7 linked regions of the Homo sapiens genome follow. The protein of the gene in region 4 purifies or fractionates together with the protein of the main gene of each other region. This does not show direct contact. Each region holds a gene or a part of one and is shown on either strand. Other genes may lie near its edges.

Region 1 (4,478 bases), on a different chromosome or scaffold from region 4:
TATTGGGGGTCTGAAGTAACTCCCCAAACCTCCGTGATTTAGTAGGAGGCAAGATAAGGATAATCACCCCAGCACCTATTGCCATTTAGATTAAGTAAATTTACTGAGGCTTCAAAGGAAAGTCTTCAGGACTCAAACCTTAGTTATAGACTAAAGTGAGTTAATCAATTATTATTATTATTATTTTTTTTTTTTTGAGACGGAGCCTCCCTCGCCCAGGCTGGAGTGCAGTGCCGGGATCTCGGCTCACTGCAAGCTCCGCCTTCCGGGTTCACGCCATTCTCCTGCCTCAGCCTCCCTAGTAGCTGGGACTACAGGCGCCTGTCACTGCGCCCAGCTAATTTTTTGTATTTTTAGTAGAGATGGGGTTTCACCGTGGTCTCGATCTCCTGACCTCGTGATCCGCCCGCCTTGGCCTCCCAAAGTGCTGGGATTACAGGCATGAGCCACCGCGCCCGGCGAGTTAATCACTTATGTCTTTAGATGAATGCACATTTACACGTAGACATATAGCTTAGAAGGTATATAAGCTCTGGAAAGCTTTGTAATTTTAAGTTGGTCTGGTGATAATTTCCAGGCCTTCTCCCTGTAACTGGTTGCAGAAATAAAAACTCGCTTCCTCTCCAGTTCATCTGCATCTCCTTACTGAACCAGGAGAAACAGCAGCCTGACGCTCAGTTTGGTCCAGGAACAGGTGGTGGAGGGCTCTCGAACTTTTTTCTTTTTTTTTTTTTTTTTTTGAGATGGAGTCTCGCTCTGTCGCCCAGGCTGGGGTGCAGTGGCGCGATCTCGGCTTACTGCAAGCTCCGCCTCCTGGGTTCACGCCATTCTCCTGCCTCAGCCTCATGAGTAGCTGGGACTACAGGCGCCCGCCACTACGCCCCGCTAACTTTTTTTGTATTTTTAGTAGAGATGGGGTTTCACCGTGTTAGCCAGGATGGTCTCGATCTCCTGACCTTGTGATCCGCCCGCCTCGGCCTCCCAAAGTGCTGGGATTACAGGCTGAGCCACAGCGCCCGGCTCTCTCGAACTTTTTTGGCAGATTTTTGCTGTTGATCAGCCCCGCTTCCCCAACTTTCCCCTGGGTCTCTCTCCCCCGGGAGTTTCTGGTTCCTCTGCGATTAATCACAGCCAAGTCTAGCTGGTTCTTCAGGACGGAGAATAAATAGGATAAACAGGAGCAGCCGAACCCTAACTTTGAGAGCTTTCTCCCCTCCTCTCCTAACTTCCCAGTCAGTGACTCGGAAGACTTTAACAGCAACAGCTGCCTCCTCTTGCCAGCTTGATCCCACCTGCTAAGTGAAGGAACAGCGTTTAAAGAGGTGGCAATCGGCAAGGGTGGATGCTTCCCTTTCCGCGCAGGCGCGTTCAGTCGCAGCACCGCGACTATCGTGATAGACAAGCGAGATCGACGCTGGCCCTTTAATAGCCCTTTCCCGGGGTCCTGCCCCGCGCGTGCGCACTGTGGTTCTGCGCTTGTCATCATGGCGACGCGGGGCCATGTGCAGGACCCTAACGACAGGCGCCTCCGGCCCATTTACGGTGAGTGTCTTGGACCAGCCCGCTCGCCAGCCCGACGCGCCGAGGGCTGCCGAGGCTGGGGCGAAAGCCCAGGAGGGGTGCTGAGGGCCGGCGCGCGGGCCGGGCAGGCGCAGGGGGGCGGGCCGCGCGGGCCACTAGGCCGCAGCCGCGGGCCTCGCGTAGGCGCCGGCCCAACCTTCCTCAGCCTTGGGGTGGTAGTGGCGCGGTCTGGGCAGCAGCTGGTCGGCAGAGCTGGCCTGCTTGGCAGGCCCCGTGGGACGCGTGGTTCTGCAGACACCTGCGCTACCCGCAGGCTGCATCGTTACCGCCGCTCCTAGGGAGACCGGAGATCTCCCCGAAGGTGGAAGCCGGCTCCGGCACGAGGGTGGGACGCCCTGCCTGAGGGAAGATTCCCTACCAGAGATTTTTTTTTATTTACGGGAATTGGGCCTAGAGGGTTGTCTGACTAGGTGGGCTTCGGTGCATAGGAGAAACTGAGGTCCGGAGTGGGGAAGGGGCTGACGCAAGGTCACCCAGATCGAGTCAGGAGCAGGCCCGAGATTCCAGGCTCCCAATCCAGAGCTGTTGGGTGGAGAAGCAGCTACTCTGGTCACACGTGGGAGGCGGGGGGAGGGGGTCTTGGGCCTAAAATAGCGGTGAAGAGATTGTGATAGCTCGTGTCAGAGGGGCATGCAGAGCTACTGGAGGGCTTCTCCTTTCTGCAGCTTCTCTGTGGTTTTCTCTGCAGCTTTCCTTCCCTGTGCTAAGCAGATCCCTCTCCACAACTCTTACCTCAACCCGCAGACTTGAAGACCTTGATGTCATCTCATCCATTTACCCTGGTAGTGAAAAATCACAGATTTTGAGTTTGGGAGAAACCCTTTTCCAATAACCGAAATGTGTAATTGGATTGGTCCTTTTTGCATTTCCTTTCCTCTTAGATGGTTTTATGGTCTTGGTCTATCTCACTTAATGGTGAGGAAGCTTCAAGGTCAGTGGTTTTTACAAAAGTAGACATCGTATTTATAGACCTCATGTGGATGTTACTAAATTGGAGGCTTCTCTCCAAGGTGGGAATCGTTTTGGGAGCGGGGGGCGGTGGTTAACTTTGTTTCTGGCCACAGTTAGTCCGGCTTTTATTTCATAATTTGTGTGATTTTTTTTTTTACTCTCACATCTCATTTGATTTTAGCAACAATCCTATAGCTAAGGTTTATAGATGACTCATTATGACAGTCACTGGCCTTGGCCTTTTATATGGGTTATCTAATATAATCTTCACCCATTCTCAAGAGGTGGCTACTGTTTTTTCCTGCCCCTGAACCCTTTAACAACAACAACAACAAAAAAAAAAACAGATGAGGAAACTGAGGCTTTATTGTTGTTGTGTAATTTGTCTAAGGCCACTCAGTTAGTATTTCTTGGAGCTAGAATTTGAACCCCTGTGGACTGTTTCAGGCTCACCTTTTTTTTCTTTTGAGATGAGTCTCACTCTGTCGTCCAGGTTGGAGTACAGTGGCACAATCTCAGTTCACTGCACCCTCTGCCTCCCAGGTTCAAGCGATTCTCCTGCCTCAGCCTCCTGAGTAGCTGAGATTACAGTTGCACGCCACCAGGCCCAGCGAACTTCCATGTTTTTAGTAGAGACAGGAGTTTACCATGTTAGCCAGGCTGGACTTGAACTCTTGACCTACTCAGCCTCCCAAAGTGCTGGGATTATAGGTGTGAGCCACCATGCCTGGCTCCAGGCTCACCTTTTTTTTTTTTTTTTTTTTTTTTTTGGAGACAGTCTCATTCTGTCATCCAGGCTAGAGTGCAGTTGCACAATCACAGTGCACTGCAACCAGCCTCCGCCTCCTGGGTTCAAGTGATTCTCCTGCCTCAGTCTCCTGAGTAGCTGGGATTACAGGTGCCCGCCACCATGCCGGCTAATTTTTGTATATATTGTAGAGAATGGGTTTCGTCATGTTGCCCAGTCTAGTCTAAAACTCCTGAGCTCAAGCAGTCCTGCCTCAGCCTCCCAGAGTGCTGGGATTACAGGTGTGAGCCACTGTGCCTGGCCCAGGCTCACCTTCTTAACCACTGTGCTAGAAACTACCTCACTTTGAGCTGAAGACACTGATTTGCCTGAGGTCACACAGATGGTAAGTGGCAGAGAAAGGACTCTGATTTCCTATTTCCCCGGGGCTGCATATTCTCATGCCCTTGCCCTCCAGTGTATATTTTCAGAGGGCAGAGATATATATACAAGGTGGGTGATGGAAGGTGAGAACTGAATCCAGGGTTCATAGTTTGTGACTCATTACAGCTTTGTGCAGCAGCTGCCTGCAGACTTTTTTTTTTTTAAACTAAAAACACTCAATACTTTCAAGAATAATTTGATTTTTAAAATTGTTCTTGAGGACCAAAGAGAATTTCTTTGGTCCCATAGTTATTTAGAATTAATAGTGTTTTGACTGTCTAATGGGAAACACCATGTCCATTTCACATCACTAAACATCAGGATATATTAACAAGTTATATTCTCAAAACTGAAGTCAGAATTATGTAGCTTTTGTAACATGTACATGGGAAGAGGATTAGAAGAGGCTTTCTTCAGTAATTCTAAGGCGATTAGTATAAACTGGCAGGACTAGGAAAAGAACGGTACAGACTGTCCGTGAATTCAGCACTTAAGCACATTTGACTTTTGAACTCCACACTTTTGTTGTTTAAATACATTACTACCCCCAAACAACCATGGTTCCTTGAATTCAGACATTCTGACAAATGAACAAACTCATCTATGGTGGTACTTGCCCACCAGCCAAAAATTCAACAACTATCAGCATTAATTAGTGTTTACTGGTGGGCTGACTGCCCTATTAGGTAGGTAAGATTATTGTGATCAAACTGAAGCCTAGAGATTAACTTGCTCAAGGTTGTAGCTACCAAGTTGTAGAGCTGGGATTTGAACA
Region 2 (4,018 bases), on a different chromosome or scaffold from region 4:
CTTCGCCCTGAGGTGGCTCCGTTTTGGGGGAAGGAGCTGGTTTTGGCCTAACCTGAGGTCTGGACTTCAAGAAGGGATTCTGGGGAGTGGCATCTGGCTTCTCCTCTGGCAGGTCAGTTTTGGATTTGGAGATGGGCCGGAGGTTGGGCTTCTTCACTTCCTTGGCCAAGACCTTGTGGCCACACTCCAGCCCCATGTCATTTTTCAGCTGGAACAGTCTGCTTTTGTCAGGTTTGGGCTCTGGCCTCCTGCTGTCCCGGGCTGGAGGGATGTGTTTGGCTGGCATCATCGGCAAAATCACGCCCGGAGGCTTGGGAGTGGGGCCCCGGAGCTGCTCCGTCCTCTGCCGCTCCCGCTCCCGCTCCAGCAGCTCCCCCTCCGACTTGATGATGGATTCTTTCCGCGGAGGGAGGCTGGGCTTCTCCTCCATGTCGGGGTCTGAGATCTCCTCGTAGCCTGCTGACGCAGACATGTCTGAAGATGCCTTCCTCAGGACATCCTTACTGCCCTTCCAGTCTTTAGACCATGGCAACCCCGAGTCCATGACACCATGCGGTGCGTCAGGCAGGGGCCGGGAGGGGCCCGTGGCTTCGCTGCCCGTGTTGTTCTCCAGCGCTGCTGCTTCCCCCAGCCGGAGCTGGGTCACCTCGTGGGGCAGGGGAGCCAGAAAGTTGGGTCTCGACGCGTTGCTCGTCTTCTTGTACTTGTCAATGAAGGTGGCCGGGGCCCACCCTTCCTTATCTTCAATCTGAATGTACCACCAGCCACTCAAGTTTTTCTCGATCACCTGCAAGGGAGGATAGAGAAAGGCACTTGGCTACGATGCCAGGGCCAGCAGATGGAATGGTTTGGCAGAACCCATGTGCAACTGGAGCTCTAGAAGCTGTCACTGTGTACTCAGCAGCTCCTCTGACAAGGTCTACAGGGACCACCAATGGAGATGTTACCATGTTCCGGGAATATCTTACATGGGGGGAGAGTCTTGTCGTATGGGACTCCCCCTAAAGCAGTCCATGAGATGTGGCCTTGGGTATAGGTACTTAATTTGAGAGTTGGTCCTAGGAAATACAAGTAAGGAAGTAGACAGAGAAAGAAGGGAAAGGGAGAGGCCAATTATGAGCAAGTTATTGCTCGGGGCCATGGGGCTTGATCTGCCAGGGACCCTCTGAGAGACCACAAAGACAGTGCCTCAGAACGGGTCCCTCTGGGGATGCGTGCATTTATCTATTGACTCTCAGCTCCTCCCTACCCAGGGTATTAACTCCTCTCCCCTTCTGGGAAGCTGTCGGCTTGCAGGGACCTGTGTGTAGGCGCAGGTGAATTCAGGTGGATCAGAGGCACCGGCAGCGTCTGCTACAATTCTAAAGACAAGGCAGAAGTCAGAGCTACCCTTGATCCTGGCTTCTTTGGCTGAGCATCGGATGAAGAAGTTAGCTGGCATTTATAGAGTCCACAACACATGAAAGAGACCTACCTTTTTTTTGAGACAGAGTCTTGCTCTGTCACCCAGGCTGAAGTGCAGTGGCATGATCTCAGCTCACTGCAACCTCCGCCTCCCAGGTTCAAGCGATTCTCATGCCTTAGTCTCCCAAGTAGCTGGGATTACAGGCATGTACCACCACACCTGGCTAATTTTTGTATTTTTAGTAGAGATGGGGTTTTACCATGTTGGCCAGGCTGATCTCGAACTCCTGGTCTCTAGCGATCTGCCTGCCTCGGCCTCCCAAAGTTCTGGGATTACAGGTGTGAGCCACTGTGCCTGGCCTGAAAAATATCTATCTTTGAACACAGGAATCACAGTCAGCTCAAAGAGATGCTCGTGTTTATATACAGGGGACCTGGAGCTGGTGGAGTAGAGTAGATTTTCATCGTGTCCCTACTTCCCTGTGGGATACACGCCTGTTGGCTGGAATGGTGGGTGGAATCACTCATGTTGTCTAAGATCTTGTTCTCTGTCTCTTTTTTGTCCAGCACTGCGTGGCTGAATTCACACAGGTGAAAGGTGTGCTCGCTATTATGGGCTGAATTGTGTCCCCCTACCCAAATTCGTATGTTGAAGCCCTAACCCCCAATACCTCCAACTGTGACTGTACTTGGAAATGGGGCCTTTAAAGAGGTGGTTAAGGTTAAAATGGATCATTAAGGTGGGCTGAGTTTGGATGTATGTCCCCACCCAAGTCTCATGTTGAAATGTGATCCCCAATGATGGAGGTGGGGCCTGGTGGGAGGTGTTTGGGTCACGGGGGCAGATCCCTCATGAATGGCTTGGTGTCCTTCCCTTGGTAATGAGTTCCCATGGGATCTGGTTGTTTAAAAGTGTGTGGTGTCTCCTTGCCACTCTCTCTTGCTCCTGCTCTTGCTATGTGATGTGCCTACTCCTGCTTTGCCTTCCGCCCTGAGTAAAAGCTCCCTGAGCCTCCCCAGAAGGCAAGCAGATGCTGGCACCATGCTTTCTGTACAGCATGCCCAACTATGAGTCAAGTAAACCTCTTTTCTTTATAAATTACCCAGTCTCAGGTATTTATTTATTTATTTTTTTGAGACAGAGTCTCGCTCTGTTGCCCAGGCTGGAGTGCAGTGGCACTATCTCGGCTCACTGCAGGCTCCGCCGCCTGGGTTCACGCCATTCTCCTGCCTCAGCCTCCCAAGTAGCTGGGACTACAGGCGCCTGCCACCGTGCCCGGCTAATTTTTTTTTTTTTGTATTTTTAGTAGAGATGGGGTTTCACCGTGTTAGCCAGGATGGGCTTGATCTCCTGACCTCGTGATCTGCCCATCTCGGCCTCCCAAAGTGCTGGGATTATAGGCATGAGTCACCGTGCCCAGCCAGGTATTTCTTTATAGCAATGCAGGAATGGCCTAATACATGGGCCCTAGTTCAATATGACTGATGTCCAAATAAGAAGAGGAGATTAGAAAACACACAGGGACTGAGGGATGACCACGTGAGAAACAGCAAGAAGGTGTCCATATGGAAGCCAGGGAGAGAGGACACAGGAGAAACCAAACCTGCTGACACCTTGATCTTGAACTTCTGGCTTCCCAAACTGTGAGACAATAAACTGCAGTTGTTTAAGCCACCCAGTCTGGTATTTTGTTATGGCAGCCATCACAGATGTACACTGCAATTCCCTGGTAGGCTCTCTCTGGACTCGGAAGATCTGATGAACGCTCATGACACCCTGTGAGTGGGGAACTGTCACCTCATTTTACGCATGCAGAACGGAGCCTCAGGAGAGCTGAGGAACACACAGCGGGTCCTGTAGAAGGGCCGTCGATCGGAGGAGAGTCAAAGGCAGCGGGGTGGGCTTCAGAGTCACCTAATCTTGCCTCTCAGAAAAGAAACCCCTGGCCGGGCGCGGTGGCTCACACCTGTAATCCCAGCACTTTGGGAGGCCAAGGCGGGCGGATCACCTGGGTCAGGAGTTTGAGACCAGCCTGGCCAACATGGTGAAACCCTGCGTCTACGAAAAATACAAAAAATTAGCTGGGTGTGGTGGCATGCGCCTGTAATCCCAGCTACGCGGGAGGCTGAGGCAGGAGAAACGCTTGAACCTGGGAGGCAGAGGTTGCAGTGAGCCGAGATCGTGCCATTGCACTCCAGCCTGGGCGACAGAGCAAGACTCTGTCTCGAAAAAAAAAAAGACCCTGCTTGGAGAAGGGCTGTGTCCGGGGTAAGAAATTGCAGAAGGAGCAAAGATGGCTGCGGGTACTTTGTGGCCCTTCTGGGAGAGGGATGGCAGCCACAGACTCAGCGCCAGGACGCAAATGCTGGGCTCCTGGGCCTGCAGTCCTGGGTTCTAGTCTTGGCTCTGCCACTTACTGCCTGAGTGGCCTGGGGCAAGCCACGTGCCTCAGATTCCACATCACAGAAGGAAAATGGTAAGAACAATTTAACACCCACTTGTAGAATTTTTGCAGCCGCAAGAGCTAATGCATACAACAGCACTTGGTAAATAATGCTGCTGCGATTAAATTAGAGTGGAGGTCACTGAGCCAGCGGGATGCACTTGACAGGC
Region 3 (4,018 bases), on a different chromosome or scaffold from region 4:
CTGTAATCCCAGCGTTTTGAGGGAGGTTAAGGCAGGCAGATCACTTGAGGTCAGGAGTTCAAGACCAGCCTGGCCAACATGGTGAAACCTCATCTCTACTAAATATTAGTTAGGCGTGGGTGGCAGGCGCCTATAGTCCCAGCTCTTGGGAGGCTGAGGCAGGGGCATTGCTTGAACCCGGGAGGCAGAGGTTGCAGTGAGTTAAGATAGTGCCACTGCACTCCAGCCTGGGCGACAGAGTGAGACATTGTCTTAAAAAAAAAAAAAAAAAAAAAAAAAAAGGTCAGGCACGGTGGCTCACACCTGTAATCCCAGCACTTTGGGAGGCCGAGGTGGGCGGATCACAAGGTCAGGGGTTCGAGATCAGCCTGGCCAACATGGTGAAACCCCATCTCTACTAAAAATACAAAAAAAAAACTAGCTGGGCGTGGTGGTAGGCGCCTGTAATCCCAGCTAGTCAGGAGGCTGAGGCAGGAGAATCGCTTGAACCTGGGAGGCGGAGTTTGCAGTGAGCAGAGATCGAGCCACTGCACTCCAGCCTGGGGGACCAGAGCAAGACTCCATCTCAAAAAAAAAAAAAAAAAAAAAAAAAAAGGAAAGAAGTTGGTTTCAGCAGATAAAGGCATAGTTAATGTTGTTCATACGATCCTAAAAATCATTTATAGAAATAATTCTTCCAGATGTTGGCATACACTTTTTGTGGGACAGAAAACCGGCATAATACTTCCGCACATCATCACAAGCCTTAAAAATATGTATGCTCTTTGACCCAGTAATACTACTTTTAGGGATTTATCTTAAGAAAATAATTAAGAAATAATAAAGTTTTAGCTCTAAGGATATTCATCTCCATACTTTTTTCTTTTTTTCAGTGACAAGGTCTGGCTCTTTCACCCAGTCTGGTGTGCAGTGGCATGATCACAGCTCACTGCAAACTCCAACTCCTGGGCTCAAGCAATCCTCCTGCCTCAGCCTCCCCAGCAGCTGGGACTACAGCAGCATGCCACCAAGCCTGGCTAGTTTTTTTATTTTTATTTTTCTGTAAAGACTAGGTCTCGCTATTATTGCTCAGTCTGGTCTTGAACTCCTGGGCTCAAGTAATGCTCTCACTTTGGCTTCCCAAAGTGTTGGGAATATAGGTGTGAGCCACCCTGCCTGGCCACAGTGCTTTTATATTAGCAAAACATTAACAGCAATGAAACTTGGGTACATAAACTGAACAATATGTAGCAACATTGACAAGAAACTGGGAAGGGTGGTTACCTCTAGGAGAGGGTCTAGAAGTGGTGGCTGGGGACAGAGGTGGGAAATTTGCTGTTCTCACTCAATAACATGGTTGTAATCATTTGAAGCTTGTTTGATGTATATGTATTATCCTTTCAAAAAACTGATTAATATTGTGGCCGGGATCGGTGGCTCACACCTGTAATCCCAATACTTTGGGAGGCTGAGGCAGGCAGATCACCTGAGGTCGGGAGTTTGAGACCAGCCCGATCAACAAGGAGAAATTCCGTCTCTACTGAAAATACAAAATTAGCAGGGCATGGTGGCACATGCCTGTAATCCCAGCTACTCGGGAGACTGAGGAAGGAGAATCACTTGAAACCAGGAGGTGGAGGTTGTGGTGAGCTGAAATTGTGCCTTTGCACTCCAGCCTGGGCAACAAGAGCAAAACTCTATCTCCAAAAAAAAAATAAATAAATAAAATAAAATATTGTATAACCACGCTTACTGACATGAAAGCCATACCTATGTCATACCACATTAAAAAAAAGGAATGGGGAGGTGTCATACAGGTGGTATATAGTTCTGCAAGATGAAAAGTTCTGGATAGTGATTGCCTAACAATGTGAATACACTTAACTCTACTGAACTGTACACGTGGTTAAAATGGCAAATTTTAATTTTTTTTTTGAGACAGGGTCTCACTCTGTTGCCCAGGCTTGAGAGCAGTGGCACGATCTAGGCTCACTGCAACCTCCACCTCCTGGGCTCAAGCCATCCTCCTACCTCAGCCTCCCGGGTGGCTGGGATCACAGGCGTGTACCACCACGCCTGGCTAATTTTTGTAATTTTTGGTAGAGACAGGGGTTCACCATGTTGGCCAGGCTGCTCTCGAACTCCTGACCTCAAGTGATCTTCCCACACTGGGCTCCCAAAGTGCTGGGATTTCAGGCATGAGCCACCGTGTCTGGTCTAATTTGATGCTCTTGGTAAAATAAGGATAAAAACTTTTTCTATGTTAATTACATACAAGATGCTGAAGGTAACATACTGATGAATGTAGTAAACATATCCATAAATAAAGCAAATGAAAAGAAAATGAATATGCTAGTTCTCCAAGGCATGGTTAACAAGAAAGCCACCTATATAAGCATCTACAGCAAAATAATAATGATGATTAACTAAATGTTATTTATTTATTTATTTTTGAGACGGAGTCTCGCTCTGTCGCCCAGGCTGGAGTGCAGTGGCACGATCTTGGCTTACTGCAAGCTCCGCCTCCCAGGTTCACACCATTCTCCTGCCTCAGCCTCCCAAGTAGCTGGGATTACAGGCACGCCCGCCACTATGCCCAGCTTATTTTTTGTATTTTTAGTAGAGACGGGGCTTCACCATGTTGGCCAGGCTAGTCTCAAACTCCTGACCTCATGATTTGCCCGCCTCGGCCTCCCAAAGTGCTGAGATTACAGGCGTGAGCCACCGCACCTGGCCCCATTCCCGTTTAAACATCTGTATTCCCTGCCATAACATCTTTTGCCACCTATAGCTACTTGAAGTATGGTCTTGGAGCCTGTTGTACATTTAAGAATAAATTTTCATTTAAAAAAAAAAAAAAAAAGTGGTTGGGTACTGTGGCTCAGGCCAGGCGCATGGCTCATGCCTGAAATCTCAGCACTTTGGGAGGCTGAGGTGGGTGGATCACCTGAGGTCAGAAGTTCGAGACCAGCCTGGCCAACATGGTGAAACCCCTCTCTAGTAAAAATACAAAGATTAGCTGGGTGTGAGGGCACACACCTGTAATCTCAGCTGCTTGAGAGGCTGAGGCAGGAGAATCGTTTGAACCCAGGAGGTAGAGGTTGCACTGAGTCAAGATGACGCCACTGCGCTCCAGCCTAGGCAACAGAGCGAGTCTCCATCTCAAACAAAACAAAACGAACAAAACAAAACAAAAAAGTATTATGACAGCTACAAAAAATAGGAGAGAAGGGATTGAAAAAAATGTCAGTTAAAACAATTTCTGGCGGCCTGGTGCAGTGGCTCACGCCTGTAATCCCAACACTTTGGGAGGCTGAGGCGGGTGGATCACAAGGTCAGGAGTTCGAGACCAGCCTGACCAACATGGTAAAACCCCATCTCTACTAAAAATACAAAAAATTATCCAGGCATGGTGGCGGGCGCCTGTAATCCCAGCTACTCAGAAGGCTGAGGTAGGAGAATCGCTTGAACCTGGGAGGCGGACGTTGCAGTGAGTCGGGACTGCACCACTGCACTCCAGCCTGGGTGACAGAGAGAGATTCTGTCTCAAAAAAAAAAAAAAAAAAAAAAAAAAAAATCCTTTGAAAGACAAGAAATTAAATACAGAAAATGGAAGAAACTGAAACTGGAATAGAAGTAGACCACAACTGTAGTTACATAAAAGTATCCCTAATTCAAAGAAAAAAGCATTTACTCTTTGTCCTGAACAGGTGTAGTCAAAAAAAGAACGCTGGTTTATGAAATGCTGACACGATTTCACTCTCACCTTACAGCAACAAAACTACCCTCAGAGGTTTTGTACAAATGAAGGAGACAAAAATGGACCAGGGCTTACACAAGGACCGGGAGAACACACTGAAGACAAAACCTAACCAAAGACTACAATGCCTGGGCCAAATTTTGTGGCATAAGGAAGAGGAAGGAAAAGCAGGAGAAGGTCATTTGGGGTCACAGGTACAGCATGTGCAAAGGCATGGGGGCGTGGGAGCTCACAGAGTGCTGGAAGAGCAAAAGAACTCATCGCCCACTGTGGGGGTTA
Region 4 (4,018 bases):
TCACCTGAGGTCAGGAGTTTGAGACCAGCCTGGCTAACATGGTGAAACCCTATCTCTACTGAAAATACAAAAATTAGCCAGGCATGGTGGTGGGAGTCTGTATAGTCCCAGCTACTCAAAGACTGAGGCAGGAGAATCACTTGAACCTGGGAGGCGGAGGTTGTAGTGAGCCAAATTCACGCCACTGTACTCCAACCTGGGCGACAGAGCGAGATGGTCTTAAAAAAAAAAAAAAATCACACTTCTGGATGCATGGTGCCCACAGATTAATCATTTTTTAAAACAATTACTTTTTAAAAAAACTTAAAAGCATTCCTGTTGTACACATTCATGATCAACGTAAGGACATTTTTGACAATATTTTCAATAATCAAATTCATGTGCAAATGTTTAGAAATATAGAAAGAACACAAGTGAGAAGCATAAACAATATACTGTACAACCCAAGCAATGAAAAGCTTGTCCTGCTAAAATGAATCACTGATATTTGAGAGAATTACAAGGAGTAACAGCAATAATTTAAATCCTCAAAACAGGTGTTTGCTTTGCAATAAAACCAGTCCTGAAAAATACCTTAGAAACCTAGCTTTCAATAAACCTCTATATTCTATTTTTTCCACCCCAGATAGCCTTTTTTTGGCAACACCTCTGTATTTCGTAGGTTCCCATCCTCTTTATTAATTTTTTTTATCAAATCTCTTTGTGTTAATGGTGCACATACCTGGTGTAGCTCTCACATGTCAGAGTGACACACACACATGAAATATTTTCTAAAATAATTTCTGGAGCAGGCGTATGTGTATAGTCCCTTAAACTCCACGGGGCTCCTTTGTATACAACCTATATTTATTCAACCTCTCTCATTTCCATTTTGAAAAACTGGAGTAGTCTGAAACTCTTTTGGCTTATGGTGACCAGAAATAGTGTTCTGGCTGGCACCTCTCTAAAAGCATCTTCTTGACGAGACATAGGTTGAAATGTTAAATGCATCTCCACTTACCCACAACTCTGGTGTTGTAGTAATCTGGGAGCATGCGCTCACACAAAGCCACAAGCAGCCAGAAAGCTTCCTCCTCTTTGGCATAAAGCAGCAGCACTGAAGTGACAATATTCATGGCCTAAAAAAGTGAAAGAGGATGTCATCAAATACAGTTGAAAATATAAGCAATTCTGTTAGCATATTAAAATTACTCAGTTATTCTCACAAGGGCTGGCAAACCTTTTCTGTGAAAAGCGAGATAAATATGTTTAGGCTTTGGAGGCTTTACACATAGTCTCTGTCATATATTCTTCTGAGTTTTGTTTTATGACCCTGTAAAAACATAAAAACCTGAGTCCTTGAACCAGTAAGTGTGCAGGGTCTTCCTTAACACCAATATTCACCAGACAGAGCCCCGAACTCATGCTGGCAAACCCCTATTCCAAAAATTTGCCCAAAGGCTATTTCACAAAGCTTTTAACCTGCTAAAATCTCTCAGTGTTCTTAATCCTTAATTCAGTGAGGTAAACATTTCCTTTGTAACTTTCCGTAATGGTTTCTATAATCAGGTACACATGGCTCCAGGCTCTCCTGAGAGAACAACGAAACCTTTCAGACTTGGAGTCCTCACCCAACATTTCCATACGGAGAGAGATGGTAGTGATAACTGAGAGTGATTTAAATTCTAAAGTAACTGTAGTTTATTAAAAGATATTATCAGATACCTCATAACCACTCTAGACTCAACTACTTTAATAGTCTTCTTAATTAAAAAGAGGAAGATCAAAAGGTAAATATGAACTTTATCATATTAGAGGCCAACTACCTCCTGTACTTCTTTTGATCTCCCAGAAACCGGTAACTGTTCATCAGGCTTCTACAATTCAATTTCAAAAAAGGTATTTTGGTTTAATAGGCTCTTTCTTGTAAGTCTTACTCATTATGTTCCCAAGTGACATCATCATGGAAATTCCACTTGAGAATTAACCTGCTGATCCTAGTACATGATGATGGTCCCTGCCAGTTCCTTAGTCATTTAGCGGAGATAGGTTTTTTTAGGGGTCTACCTTGTAACAGGCTCTGGACTAGGTATTGGAGGATGGGGGACAGAGTGGTGATATCTTGCAGGTCCTAAATGCTAGTGTTAGATAAAACAAAGATGAAAAGGTTAACTAGTCTATGTGGGGGGTTATTTAAATTGGAAGTTATAAAGAGGTAAAATAATGCAGTAGAGGGAGACTAACGTGTGCATGTACGTGCACTTGTGTGTTGAAGTAGGAGTTCAGCCTCTTTTAGCTTTTGCTGGATGGTCAGGGAAGGCCTCTACAATGATATAGCCTTTGATTCTTTCTTTTTTTTTTAATTTGAGACGGAGTCTTGCTCTGTCGCCCAGGCTGGAGTGCAGTGGTATGATCTCAGCTCATTGCAAGCTCCACCTCCCGGGTTCAGGCCATTCTCCTGCCTCAGCCTCCCGAGTAGCTGGGACTACAGGCACCTGCCACCACGCCTGGCTAATTTTTTGTATTTTTAGTAGAGACGGTGTTTCACCGTGTTAGCCAGGATGGTCTCGATCTCCTGACCTCGTGATCCTCCGGCCTTGGCTTACCAAAGTGTTGGGATTACGGGCGTGAGCCACCGCACCTGGCCGATATAGCCTTTGATTCTAAGGTCACGTTATTTTGGAGCTTCCCAAATTTTGGCATCTATACCAGTACAAGAGATGACTTTTGTTGGTATGTAGGCAACTTTTCTTAATACTAAGTTAAGCACTTATTTTAATGTGTATTAAGACATAACCCTAGCATATAAAAGCTCTATTCAAGGACATTATTACTTAAGAGGATGCAAAGTAGCAACACTGTGGCGAACCACAGTGACAGGCCTGGTGCTGAGGATGCCCTCTCTTACTCCAGGGTGGGATGAAGGTTGAGGCAGACAGTGATCAGAAGGATCTTCTCCAGGTCACCTAGCTAGACAGTGGTGAATCCAGGAAGGTCTCCTCCATTCAGTGCAGTGGTTCTCAACCCAGGATGATTCTGCCTCTCAGACATCTGGCAATATCTAGAGACATTTTTGGTTGTTACAACTGGGGATTTTCTACCAGCATCTAGTGGTAGGGGCCAGGGATGTTACTAAACATTCTACAAAGCATAGAACAGCCCATACAACAAAGAGTTAACAGTCCAGAGTGTCAACAGTGCCAAGGTTGAGAGGCCCTGGTAAAGTGATAGTTCTGTTAACCATAAACCTTCCTTCCCACTATTTGCTGCCAAATGAATAGAAATTTTATTTTATTTTTTTAGCAAAAACCACCTGTGACATTTACCTGGCAATACCCTATGTTGGGATTTCGAAAAGCATAAGCTGTTAAGACTCTCCTTAGTGCAGCAATGCCCATTTCATTCTGAAAAGCTGGGTGTTCTGGAAGGGAGCGGTGTAAATCCCTCTCAATCTCCTCCGTGGCGAGATTATACTTCCCCATGGACTTCTCCACTAGGTCTTCATAGTACCCAGGATGTGTGGCCTTCTCATTGATGGCACCTGAGATATATCCAACAGATACAGTATCAAAAACGTGAGAGCTCTGCCTTTTGGTTTGCAACTACAGCTTATGATTGAACTGCTTTACTTTCCTACCTCTCAAAGGAAACTTGCAAGAGAAGGTGAAATCACAGATGTGGTATGTTGCAATCGTGGCTAGACTGGTGAATTTGCCTGTGGCCTCCTTCCCTCTTTCAGCTCCATAGTAGGCTGGCTACTTAAAAACTTTCCTAAGGTAGAGGTTCCCAAGCTACAAAACCATGCTCTGAGGAACTCCCACAGACAGTCCTGAAGGGCTGCTTAGGAGCACAGGTGGGGAGGTCATCATAACAAGCCAGGCTGAGGCTTCACCTTCTCATCACTCTCTTCAACCCCAGCAGCTTTGCTTTTATTTTATTGTGGTTTCATTAAGATTTCACTTGAAATAGGAGGTTCTGTCTCTCAAAATAAGTCTGAAAACTGCCTGCTAACGTGTTAGCTCTGAAGGGTTTAATAGCC
Region 5 (4,018 bases), on a different chromosome or scaffold from region 4:
GACAGAACGAGATCCTGTCTCAAAAATAAAAATAAAAATAAAATAAATAAAAAACTCTCAGCACATGTATTGTGTGGTATGTCTTCTATAATCAAAAATAAATTCCAAATTTTGTCATAACTACATTCCATTAAATTAAGGTACTTATGAGCCAGGGCAGTAAAACTTTCACCAATTTGATAAGTCACTGACAAATTTCTAAAAGAGATAAATCCTAACAATATTATGTAAGTCTTGTATATCCACTCATCTTTATGAGGCACTTCAACACTACCTTCACATTTAAGGTGTTTACTGTCATCAAGTACACTGTCCCATGCTTTCTTGATCTTCATTTTTTACAGGCAATATTTATGTATATAATGTTACACAAATTTCATTTTTGTGATTGCAAAAAAAAACCAAGTATGATAATAGAGCTAGTTTCAAACAAGATTTCATCAGATAAAATTAAGACAAGCTAGACATGCATCAAGATAAAGATTCTCTATTTCTGTTTCATTAAGGAATTACTTTTTCATTAGTATATTTTTCCCACTCTAAATTTTAAATCTTTTTAAAGCTTTTAACTAGTTTTCAACTTTGCTGTCAAGTTTGAACTCTGCTGTATATCAAAAGTTGATCATATTAAATGTCATATACTGTAGAGTAAAATTGGCTTTTGAAATAATATAGACATTTGACAATTATCAGCACAGTATATTTTATGAGGGAATAATGTAGAATTAACTGTTTTATTCAAATACCATTTATGGTATGAAAGTAACATTATTTTAGGTGATGTTTACAAACTACTACTTTATTTGTTTAAAAGTAAACATGCTTCTGATGAATGGCATGAAAATTTACCATTGCCAAATTCAAAAAGCAGAAATAAGAGAGCCCAAGGAATCAGATGCTAAGCTCTGGGATAAAGAGATGATGTCTAAAAGGTGCCCCTACTTGTCCCTATTTCAACACTATGTGAATGGTAGGAATTGCATGATACTAGACCTAATCTCTATTACACTAATGAGAGATGACAAAAAAATCCATTTTAGAGCCATCATTTAGTAACACTAGTTTTAACACAGACTTTTATCTTGGTAGTCAAGAAATATTTGGAAAGTTATTTAGTATGTTTAATTCAGCAAAGTATGCGCTGCAAATTACAAACATTGTGGTAGTCTATAAGAGCAGCAACAATCAAACCTAAGCCGGAAAAACACACTGTATTGCTATATTATTCAAAGAAATTGTTGCTATACTTCATTACTGTCTATTACTAAATCCATACTACTGCACTTTTCTTTGAGACAGGTTCTCACTCTGTCACCAAGGCTGGAGTGCAGTTGCGTGATCTCAGCTCACTGCAACCTCCGCCTCCTGAGTTCAAGCAATTCTTGTGCCTCAGCCTCCCAAGTAGTTGGGATTACAGGCACACATCACCACACCTGGCTAATTTTTGTATTTTTAGTAGAGACAGGGTTTCACCAAGTTGGCCAGGCTAGTCTCGAACTCCTGACCTCAGGTGATCCGCCTGTCTCAGCCTCCCAAAGCACTGGAATTACAGGTGTGAGCCACTATGCCCAGCCTGCACTTTTCTTCTTAATAAAGCCGTGACTCATAATTGAAATATTTTGAGATTAAAAAAGGCAATAAAAGCTAATTAGATCCACTCATCTAGAACCAGTGGCAAGAAAAAAGTTTTTAACCTACTGTGATTTCTATCTTAAAATTCTCTGAGCTTCATTTTTCTTCAAAATTCTAGTAAGTAAAATGAGATAAAGAAAAAAAAGAAAAAATGGACTCTACAGCCATGGGACTTTTAGGTGGAAAAAGTCTGTCAGTCTCTAAGTGACAGAACTATGAGCAACTTTTATTTTCTTTTGTGCTTTTCCACATTTTCTGGATTTTCTGTAATACATGTGCATTACATTTCTAATTTGAAAACAATGTAAAGTCTGTCTTAACTACCCTGTTTACCTTCTCATACCACCAACCCCCAAACCACCCTAAAATTTTAATCCTCCCAACTCAGACCTTCCACTTTCCAGTGTCACTGCAAAATTAGATGCCGTCTTCTCATTTTCCATTAAATGAGTAAACTACCAGTGTGCTATATGGAAGAATGATGTAACTACTATAGAAATCCCTTTTGTACTTTTAAAGAGAATATTTTTGGGAGAAGGGATTAGAAATGTAAATTAAAGAAAACTACGTAATTTCATATGTCAAAGATTATAATGAACTTCTCTTAAAATAACCTAGACATCCCTCCTCCTACGTGACAAATGGAGCATTCTCATCAATGTATTGCGCACCTACTAAGTGTCAAACACAGAGCTAGGTTACATGTGAGTATAAAATTTTAAAGCAAAGCACAGTCTACAGAGTAATGTTAAATCTTTTGGGAAGTTTTGGGCAAGCATGTGACACCTTTCATTAGAAACAGTAATTCTTAATGAAGAAACCCTGTAAAAAGATTATTTGTACTATTATTCTTTGTGAAATATTAGACTGTATCTACAATAATAAAACACTGCTAAATTATAGACTACCAAGTGGAATGTAGAAATCATTTTTCCTTGTTACAGACGGAGCTAACAAGTAGTGTAAAGTTAATGTTGGTTAATTACGTTTTTGGCCAATTTGTAGAAAGTTCATACAACTATAACATTAGATGCAAAACATTTATAGTTCCCCAGAACTGTGGCAATTTAAATAATGGTGTAGTGGCGCCGGGCATGGTGGCTCACACCTGTAATCCCAGCACTTTGGGAGGCCGAGGCAAGCGAATCACGAGGTCAGGAGTTCAAGACCAGCCTGGCCAACATAATGAAACCCCGTCTCTACTAAAAATACAAAAAATTAGCCGGGTGTGGTGGCAGGTGCCTGTAATCCCAGCTACTTGGGAGGCTGAGGCAGGAGAATCGCTTGAACCTGGGAGGTGGAGATTGCAGTGAGCAGAGATCACACCACTGCACTCTAGCCTGGGTGACAGTGCGAGACTCCGTCTCCAGAAAAAAAAAAAAGAATAGTGTAGTGGGAAACATACAGACCTGGGTTCAAACTCAGACACACAATGTAACCATGAGCAATTTCCTTAACATTCTTGAACTTGTTTCCTGATCCACAACATGGAAATAACACCTACCTTATTGGATTGTTGTGAAGATCAAATAAGGTGTATAGGACACTAAGTACAATGTCTGATATATAGCAAATAATTTTTAAAATGTTATTTGTAGTCTCTTATAATTATCTTCTAGTACAATTATCTATACTCTCTTCTGGAAAGCAAAAACCTATCTTGTCATCTTTATATCCTCCAATATAGCTTTGGTAGATACTACATAACTGTTTGGTGAAATTAACCCCTGTAATTTAAGGGTAACTATCTCAACTTTCCACTTGAGCAAGTTACCTCTATCTAAATAAAATCTGCTGAGAATGGAATTTAAGATTCCCAGACCAACACTTTATTGGGCATTTTGATGAAGAAAATGAATCTCCAATAATCAACAAGGTAGCTTTGTTAGTACACTGCTCAATATTTGGTCTGCATTCTACAAAATTACCATTGTAGCCAACACTTTCATTCTGAGATTCTTTACAGTTTTCATTAATCCAGGTTTCTTGGAAATAGACTTTAGTTTCTTTGGCATTGCAAAAATGTCTGTTTTCTGCTATACTTCAAATAAAAAAAGAGAATACAACACAACAAATTAGTTATGAGATAAAAATTAGAAATTGGCCATTTTAAACAGCCGATTTTTATTTTTACTACAGTAAATATTCTTCCTTATACCTTGAAACCTCTAGCCACCAAAGTTTACATAGTTTATTAATGCTTCCTTGTTGAATAAGCCTCCTGAATTACTAACAATACTTAAAAACATTACTCCATGCTATTACAGTAATTAACAAGACAGAATACTGTAGTTTCAGATTTTCTTACTTTGCCTTTCCATGACCAAAAGCCAATTCCAGCTCAAGCAGTGGAGTATTTCAAATTCTACAATTTGAAAAAATAATG
Region 6 (4,018 bases), on a different chromosome or scaffold from region 4:
TGCCAGGTTGAGAGAAGTTAGATTTGATTAATATTGTTAAATTCTATAGCAACTAAAATTTTTCTTAATATTTCCTTTTGGAATCACATTCTCTTTCAATTTATTGTTGTAATTTAATGTGTTTTTCTACTTTTAAGAACTGTTGGGATTGACCATTTGCTGACAACCTGAAAAGTGTCAGTTAGTTCACTCTCTGCCAACTCCTACAGTTGCATATGTACTGCATGAACAGGTGGGGTACTAGATACTCTTCACTGTTGTTGCACATAGAATATTTTATTAATTTGATGTCACTGCAAAATGTTCTTCCTCCAGAATAAAAGAAGAAAGGTCTGCCTATTAAAGTCTCTCTAGAACTAAAAAGTCAAAATGGTAGAAAGCAACATCAGATCAATTCTATAAATATTTAAATTATAATTCTCAGAAAACACGAGTAAAAATCTAATGGCTCATTGGATGGAGAAGGATGATGAGTAGTAAAGGAGGTGTATTATTTAAATATTATAGAAAGTGTTTCTTTGTAGCCCTGTATGTAGGGAAGGAGAGTATTTGTGATTGTATAACTTGTTGCTCTTGATGAGATACTGAGAAACCATAAACGTAATTTATTTTATTTATGTATTATATTTATTTTTACATTTTTTAAGGCTGTGAATAAGTTGGCTGAGATCATGAATCGAAAAGAACCTGTCAAGCGTGGTAATGACACAGATGTGCGGAGAAAAGAGAAGGAGAATAGAAAGCTACATATGGAGCTTAAATCTGAACGTGAGAAATTGACCCAGCAGATGATCAAGTATCAGAAAGAACTGAATGAAATGCAGGCAGTAAGAATACTTTTTGGACTCTAGACTGAAGACTTCTTTTTAAGAAGTAGAATTATTTTCATGTCTGTGTTTTACTGGTTATAGACCATTTCTATTTAATAATTATTATTGAACCAAGAAGCAAAATGTTGAGTTATGTTGCATCCAATTAACTTATTGTAATTAAATTTCTTATAGCAAATAGCTGAAGAGAGCCAGATTCGAATTGAACTGCAGATGACATTGGACAGTAAAGACAGTGACATTGAGCAGCTGCGGTCACAACTCCAAGCCTTGCATATTGGTCTGGATAGTTCCAGTATAGGCAGTGGACCAGGGGATGCTGAGGCAGATGATGGGTTTCCAGGTATGGATTTGTTTTCAGCACTAATATTTATCTTAAATATAAATCAGTTGATTGTTTTAAGTCTTGCGACTGACTGCTCTGAAGGAAAAATGTTTGTAATTTCTTTAAGGGAAAACCTACTCCTTGGAGTAAGGATTCAAGTAACATTTCAAACTTATTTTATTTATTGATTTTTTTTACAAAGTTTTTCATAAACATACAAAAGAAAAACTCCACATGTCTAGTTTTTAAATTATTATATTAGCTCTATTTTTAAGCTTTCGTTTCATTTTCTCTTCTTTCTGCATTCTTACTTCCTTTTATGTTGGGTGTTTAGTTCATATCACTCAGTCACACACTATGGAATCCATGTCATTCACCTACCAGCGTTCCTCTACTTCTCTCAATATTGCCACTAAGCCTTCCAGTTCTCACACGCTCCTTGACTCTGATTCTGACTCAGAAGAAGAATCTTTGCCTTACTTACCCATTTCATCGGAACCTAATGGTACAGGTGATATCCTGAAAATCTTCTCATCTTTGGAGTTTTTCCCACTACCCTTAATTTTAGTCCTTTTGAAGATTTTTTATGTAACATTAACTAATAACCACTAACTCTAATATGTTGTTGTAGACTCAGTTAAAAATAAACTGCTGCATGAATAAAGAATTTGTTTTTAAGGTATTTTCTCATGGCATTGCTGTTATAATTGATAGATGCCAACTTGCGAGAAATGGAGTAATACATTATATTGCTTAAGAGCGCATGGTTTCACTGCTTGTTTTAGCCATTTTCAACCAAGAAGAAATTCTTCCTGAAGTTTCATAACAAGAGTGGTGGTACAGAAAAAGTACTTCGACTGATTCAAAGGATATGCTTAAGGTTTTTACTGAGTACTTACTGACATTATCCTAGGCATATGTCCTTCATAAGAAACATGAAAGAATTTGGCCCGATCGTTACCCTGAAAGAGATTACAGTTTAAATGAAAACAGCAGAGAGTTCCGTCATTCAGAGTCAGAGGCAGCCCTGTGTGATCTTTCAAGACTGCAGTTTCCTCATCTAAATTAGGAAAATAATTCCTGTTCTGTGCGGTTTTTTTAGGATTAAAGAGAATTTGTGTAAAGCATCCAGCACGATTGATACATAATAGAAGTTAAATAAGTGATAGCTACTTTTACTATTAGAATAACTTCCCCAAATGCTATTTCACATATTTATTTCATTAAAAGACATTGATCAAATGTCATTAAAACAAATTCCGAGGATTCATACACATTCCTTAGTTGAATTACAATGTTACTGATTTTGATATTTTGGAATTTAGAAATCTTTTGATTATTTTGCTGCTTATTAACCAAATTTTATCTAAAATGTACGTAATTGGTCAGGTGTGGTGGCTCATGCCTATAATCCTAGCACTTTGAGAGGCTGAGGCAGACAGATCACCTGAGGTCAGGAGTTCGAGACTAGCCTGGCCAACATGGTGAAACCCCATCGCTACTAAAAATACAAGAAATAGCTGGGCGTGCTGGCGCGTGCCTGTAATCCCAGCTACCTGGGAAGCCAAGTTAGGAGAATCACTGGAACCCAGGATGCACAGCCTGCAGTGAGCCAAGATTACGCCACTACATTCCAGCCTGGGCGACAGAGCAAGACTCCATCTCAAAAAAAAGAAATAAAATAAAACAAAATTTACATTATTTTATTTTATTATAGTTATTCTAAAAGTCCATTTTCTCTGAACACGTAATTATTTAAAATATTTACTCCTTGAAAATGTGCACAATGTGGCCCTCTTCCAAAGGAAAAATAAAGGAGTCTAAGGCAGGTGTACCAGTGAGAATAGAGAGTTGCTGCTGCTGCCTTTTTTTTTTTTTTGGCAACTTTTCTCCTGAATTTTATAAATGCATGAATTTAATCAATGGAACATTTGACTTTATAAAAGTATAGACTATCTGTTTCCAATATGATATAACCTGGATTTTGTTTTGCATTGCATAACTTTTTACTACTGATCCTGTACTATTACTGTATCCTAGATGATGTATAGTGATAAATTCTAAAGGATATATTTTATTTGTTTTATAAATTTCATATTAAAATTTTATTAAGTTCTTTGTTATCTAAGGAGAATTGTTATCTTTAGCCTCACATGTTGTGCTTATTTGTAGAATCAAGATTAGAAGGATGGCTTTCATTGCCTGTACGAAACAACACTAAGAAATTTGGATGGGTTAAAAAGGTAATTGATACTTTGGAATATGAGCCTTTTGTTTTTGTTTTTGTTTTAACTCTAGTCATTTGGCTTTTGTAGTTGTAGGATATACATGACTGGTACCTTTAGACACATAGAACTTGTTTATACTTCAGGATTTGAAATGATATGATTTTATTTATCTTTGTAAAAAATTTTTGTCCTCATACCTTGTTAATAATAAGACAGATTTTATTGTTAGGAAATTGTTGATTTTGATACTTTTGCTGTTTTGTTGGGAAAAGAACTGTGAATATAGTAAAAAAGACCCACTTATTTATTTTCCTCTGTTACTATGATTATTGATGTTATTATGTTTATTTTTGAGAAGGTTACTAATGATGTTGGATCCCAAAGCTAAGTCCAAAAAAATTTGACTTTACTTCTCCCCACAGTTTGCTTATTTAAAATATCTATTAATATAAACAAAATTTATTGTTATTTTAAGGAAGACTGTCCTAAAGATATATTAAATACTTTTTAGTTACTTAGTATTTTATGATTTTTATTGCTAATATAGAATTTATTTTCAAAAAAATCAATAAATAAGGTATATAAAAACTTGAATTACTGATTTCTTTTCTCCCTGTTTTAACAGTATGTGATTG
Region 7 (4,018 bases), on a different chromosome or scaffold from region 4:
GAAATTGCACCACTGCACTCCAGCCTGGGCAACAGGGCAAGACTCCATTTCAAAAAAAAAAAAAAAAATCAGAGATGGAAGAGCACTCCCAGCAGAGAACTGAAGGCAGAATCATAGAGACATAAAATAACTCAATGTGAAGCTGTTTTACATTCAGTAGAGCTAGAACTAGGGTGTCAGTGAGGTGATAACTAGAGTTGACGCAAGACAGATAGGCCCAAGACAAGTTGCAAACGGTCTTAATGTTATACTAAGAAATTTGGTGTCCATCCTATAGCCATTAAAGTCTTTTACTCAAGGGAATGGGATGCCCCAGACTTCTTTTAGAAAGGCTCAGTGAAGAGAAAAGGTTCAAGACAGAAGAACTAGGAGACAGGATGCTATTGAAGAAGTTCATTGAAGAGATGCAGAAGTAGAAGTAGATGCAGAAGGGGATGAAAGAGAATAATTGGAAATAACTTTAATGTCTAAAAAGAGAAATTATAAAATTAGTATACATTAACTCAATGAAATTAACAAAAGTACTTAATATGAACATCAGACATGGATACAAAAACAAAACATATAATTGAATATGAACTGAGCCCAGAAGACGAACAAAAATTAAATTTGATGCATGATGACAGTAAGATGTGTGGTGATCTATTTATTTCTAAAAATTCCTTTAATGTCACTGCAAAATCTTTACAAGTTTAAAAAGTTCCTCTAGATTCAAAGTACAAAGAAGTAAAAGCAAAGCAAAAGAGGCTATGAAGCTATCTATGTCCAATAGAGGCACAAAGACCCAGGGAACATCACTGCTGAAAAGAAAAAGAAATTCTATTTCTCTCAATCTCCTTTATTCCTAAGCAGTATATTCACTTATTCCAGTTTTCAAACTGAAATTTCTTTCCTCAAAGTGCTTTCTTTCAGCCCATATAGAAATTACAGATTCAAATTTTCTATTTTTCTTTTTTTTTTTTTGAGTCAGGGTCTCGCTCTGTTGCCCAGGCTGGAATGCAGTGATGCAATCTTGGCTCACTGCAACTTCCACCTACTAGGTTCAAGTAATCCTCCCACCTCAGCCTCCCCAGTAGCTGGGACTACAGGCACGCACCATCACACTCGGCTAATTTTTGTACATTTTGTAGAGACGGGATCTCACCATGCTGCCTAGGCTGATCTCGAACTACTGGGCTCAAGCAATCCACCCACCTCAGCCTCCCAAAGTGCTGGGATTACAGGTGTGCACCAGCGCACCTGGCCCTCAAATTTACTATTTTTCTGTTATTGTTCATTACACTGTAAGTATGGCTCTTCAAATGCCACATCAGATACAAATACCACTGGCTATGAACACTTGCCCCACACATATTTCAATGATCAGTAGTATTTATAATTGTGACTTTTAAACATTATCTGATCCTCATAGATCTAGTTATAGTCACTGGATTAAACTAATAGAAAAGTAGAAGACTATACTTTATAATTTTATGTTTCATTAAGGTTTGAAACAAAATGGGGTGGGAATAGGAGCTTTCTGTTCTATCTAGAGTTAACCAAAAAGAACTAGAATTAAAGAGTCAAATATTTAATGCATATCTAAAATGTGCTTCCTTCCCAGCATTCTAGTTAATCAAGGTTTTAACCATACTTGAAATCAGCCCACCACAGGCTTGATCTACCATAGTTACTGCTAGACAATGTGATCTTGACTTTTGAAGTAATATATTGTAATTTATATAAATGGTGCCTAGATATTTTAGTGACAGACAGCTTCTGTGCAGTATTTCGTTTTTTAGCTTTAAATATTTAGGTTTAATAATTATCTAGTTTAGAGACAGTAGAAGTTAGAAGGAAAGCTGTAGAAATAACATTTGGAAAACTTTAGAAAGGGTAGGCCAATATGTCCTGGAATGATTTAGGTACAACCCCAGATAAGAGTAAATCAGAATTAATATATAATGTTACTAACTCATTTAAATGTATACTGTCCTAAAACTTCACTATCCAACAGATTCACCATATCTTAGGAAAGCAAAAGAACCAAAGAAAAATGGGTTTTAAGAAAAAATAAAAGCAACTTACTTGTACTGCATATTTGTAAAACTGCTCTGATAGTTCTCCTAGCTCCTCCCTCATTTTACAGGTGTTGGGAAACTCCTCAAGTCGGTCCAACTGCTCCACTTCAGCAATGGGATATGGCTTCTCTTTTAAGACCTGTACAATCTGGAAACGGCATAGGCCTGTAATCAACAGAGTGTAGTGGGGCTTGGGCCAGTTACTGCCCACAACCTGAACGGCCAGTGCAGCTGTGCCAATCCTGAAAAACACACAAAACATCGGTATTACAAACATTCAATACGGTAGAACAGAAACTCACTTCAGAAAGTGTTGGCTTTTCTGATACATTCATTAAGCAAAAGACATCTGAAGTGTAAATAAATTTTTTCTCTATTTAACTTAGCATCCAGTATGTGGCCTCTTCTGCCACTACCCTCAGCTATATGGCAAAGCAGACCATCTCACTATAATCTGCACCTCTTTTAAAAAATTAGGTAGGAATTTGTAAACACTTGGATTATTCAAGCGTAAAAATGTAAGAGAAAAGCAGCTGAGAATTACATATCTTAAATTAACATTGTCAACTAAGAATAAGGCAATCTTATACCAGGATAAATATTATCAATTTAAATACATTTAAATATAAATAGCATAAACCAATCTAAGAAATCTCCGTTCCAACACCAGTTGTGCTACTAACATCAAGTCAGTTTTCTTACATAATCAGTCTATGAAACTTCCACATACCCACCTTATCACAAGCTGCCATCACATACTGGGAACTTATATATATGCCCTTAACACTGAATTTCTAAGTGTGAGGGCTAAATATTACAGTCCACACACTGCCATAGACTGAGGAGAGCTAAAGAAAGACCCACATCTCAAAAGGTCTCAACCTAGTTCTAAGTGGTAATCATTTTACCTAACAATAGGTGAAAAGGCTTCAAGTCTCAGCTCCTCATCAGCAAATACAACTCTGATCAAGTCACATATAAATTTAATTCACAGAAAGGAAGCCTCATCCAAACTAAGTCAGTTATATAAAATACAAAAATCAACATTGAGAAGACAATTCCAGATCCCAAAATAAATAATATTTTCTCCCTTCAGCCATAGGAAAAGTGGTAATTCCAGAAAAGAAAATAGAAGGACTAGAACTCTCAACACCCTAGGAAAGCGGTAATAGAAGAACACCACACCTGCCCATCTCAAAGATAATAAATCATGTAATACAGTATGTGACTATGTGAGTGAACTTGCTTACTTCTATACACAGTGAATTCTTGATTACTTCCTTATAAATTACTCATTCCGTAGATTACACATAGCCTTTGGCTTCTTTCTGCCACTCAGTTTATTCTGAACTACGTCTATCCTTTTCTTACCTTTCAGTCATTACCATGTTTACAATAAAAACTGATTTAAATAATAAGCCAAACAACTGAGAAGATAAATTGGTGAGGGAAAAAAATCACATACATAAAAAACTTGAAATTATTTAGCAATTAGCTATTATTTTGACTTATTTGTGTTGTGGCTGCTTTTCTTCAATCAATAGTAGATAATATTTCCCACTTCCTGAAAGCCCACTCAGATTGCCTGAGGAAGTGAGCCACCTCTAAACTGATTAGAGAATAACTTAAACATAATTAATTGCAGATGATATTCATCACTGTTTGTACAATGCTGAAAGAGCTCACAGTCCTGTTTGTATATAAAACATCCACAGACAAGAAACTGGATCCCCGGCCTAAAGGGTTTACAAAGTAGAAACCAAGGAGGAACCAGAAAGAGAGATGAGACAAATCCAAATCTCCGATCAGGAGACAAATTTAATTATTTGGGCTATGTCATTGCTAAAAGGTGATGCTAAAGAGTTGTTTTTTGTTTTTTGTTTTTTTTTTTTGAGACGGAGTCTCACTTTGTCACCAGGCTGGAGCGCAGTAGCCTAATCTTGGCTCACTGCAACCTC

The links.
Region 1: the proteins of TBC1D9 (region 4) and NAA25 purify together in Homo sapiens (affinity purification with mass spectrometry; one large-scale study listed by BioGRID and IntAct). This does not show direct contact.
Region 2: the proteins of TBC1D9 (region 4) and SH3PXD2B purify together in Homo sapiens (affinity purification with mass spectrometry; one large-scale study listed by BioGRID and IntAct). This does not show direct contact.
Region 3: the proteins of TBC1D9 (region 4) and PUS7 purify together in Homo sapiens (affinity purification with mass spectrometry; one large-scale study listed by BioGRID and IntAct). This does not show direct contact.
Region 5: the proteins of TBC1D9 (region 4) and PKN2 purify together in Homo sapiens (affinity purification with mass spectrometry; one large-scale study listed by BioGRID and IntAct). This does not show direct contact.
Region 6: the proteins of TBC1D9 (region 4) and ROCK2 purify together in Homo sapiens (affinity purification with mass spectrometry; one large-scale study listed by BioGRID and IntAct). This does not show direct contact.
Region 7: the proteins of TBC1D9 (region 4) and LONP2 purify together in Homo sapiens (co-immunoprecipitation; one large-scale study listed by IntAct). This does not show direct contact.

The regions. Positions count from the first base shown.
Region 1 is NC_000012.12:112,105,780-112,110,257, reverse strand, and holds the start of NAA25 (N-alpha-acetyltransferase 25, NatB auxiliary subunit), read left to right. Parts: upstream 1-1,474; 5' UTR 1,475-1,484; coding exon 1,485-1,542; intron 1,543-4,478. UniProt on the Homo sapiens protein: Non-catalytic subunit of the NatB complex which catalyzes acetylation of the N-terminal methionine residues of peptides beginning with Met-Asp, Met-Glu, Met-Asn and Met-Gln. May play a role in normal cell-cycle progression.
Region 2 is NC_000005.10:172,339,130-172,343,147, forward strand, and holds part of SH3PXD2B (SH3 and PX domain-containing protein 2B), read right to left. Parts: intron 788-4,018; coding exon 1-787. UniProt on the Homo sapiens protein: Adapter protein involved in invadopodia and podosome formation and extracellular matrix degradation. Binds matrix metalloproteinases (ADAMs), NADPH oxidases (NOXs) and phosphoinositides.
Region 3 is NC_000007.14:105,508,618-105,512,635, forward strand, and holds part of PUS7 (pseudouridylate synthase 7 homolog), read right to left. Parts: intron 1-4,018. UniProt on the Homo sapiens protein: Pseudouridylate synthase that catalyzes pseudouridylation of RNAs.
Region 4 is NC_000004.12:140,658,588-140,662,605, forward strand, and holds part of TBC1D9 (TBC1 domain family member 9), read right to left. Parts: intron 3,521-4,018; coding exon 3,306-3,520; intron 1,119-3,305; coding exon 1,001-1,118; intron 1-1,000. UniProt on the Homo sapiens protein: May act as a GTPase-activating protein for Rab family protein(s).
Region 5 is NC_000001.11:88,687,085-88,691,102, reverse strand, and holds part of PKN2 (serine/threonine-protein kinase N2), read right to left. Parts: intron 1-4,018. UniProt on the Homo sapiens protein: PKC-related serine/threonine-protein kinase and Rho/Rac effector protein that participates in specific signal transduction responses in the cell.
Region 6 is NC_000002.12:11,194,335-11,198,352, reverse strand, and holds part of ROCK2 (rho-associated protein kinase 2), read left to right. Parts: intron 1-647; coding exon 648-827; intron 828-1,004; coding exon 1,005-1,173; intron 1,174-3,327; coding exon 3,328-3,398; intron 3,399-4,008; coding exon 4,009-4,018. UniProt on the Homo sapiens protein: Protein kinase which is a key regulator of actin cytoskeleton and cell polarity.
Region 7 is NC_000016.10:48,250,415-48,254,432, reverse strand, and holds part of LONP2 (lon protease homolog 2, peroxisomal), read right to left. Parts: intron 2,303-4,018; coding exon 2,068-2,302; intron 1-2,067. UniProt on the Homo sapiens protein: ATP-dependent serine protease that mediates the selective degradation of misfolded and unassembled polypeptides in the peroxisomal matrix.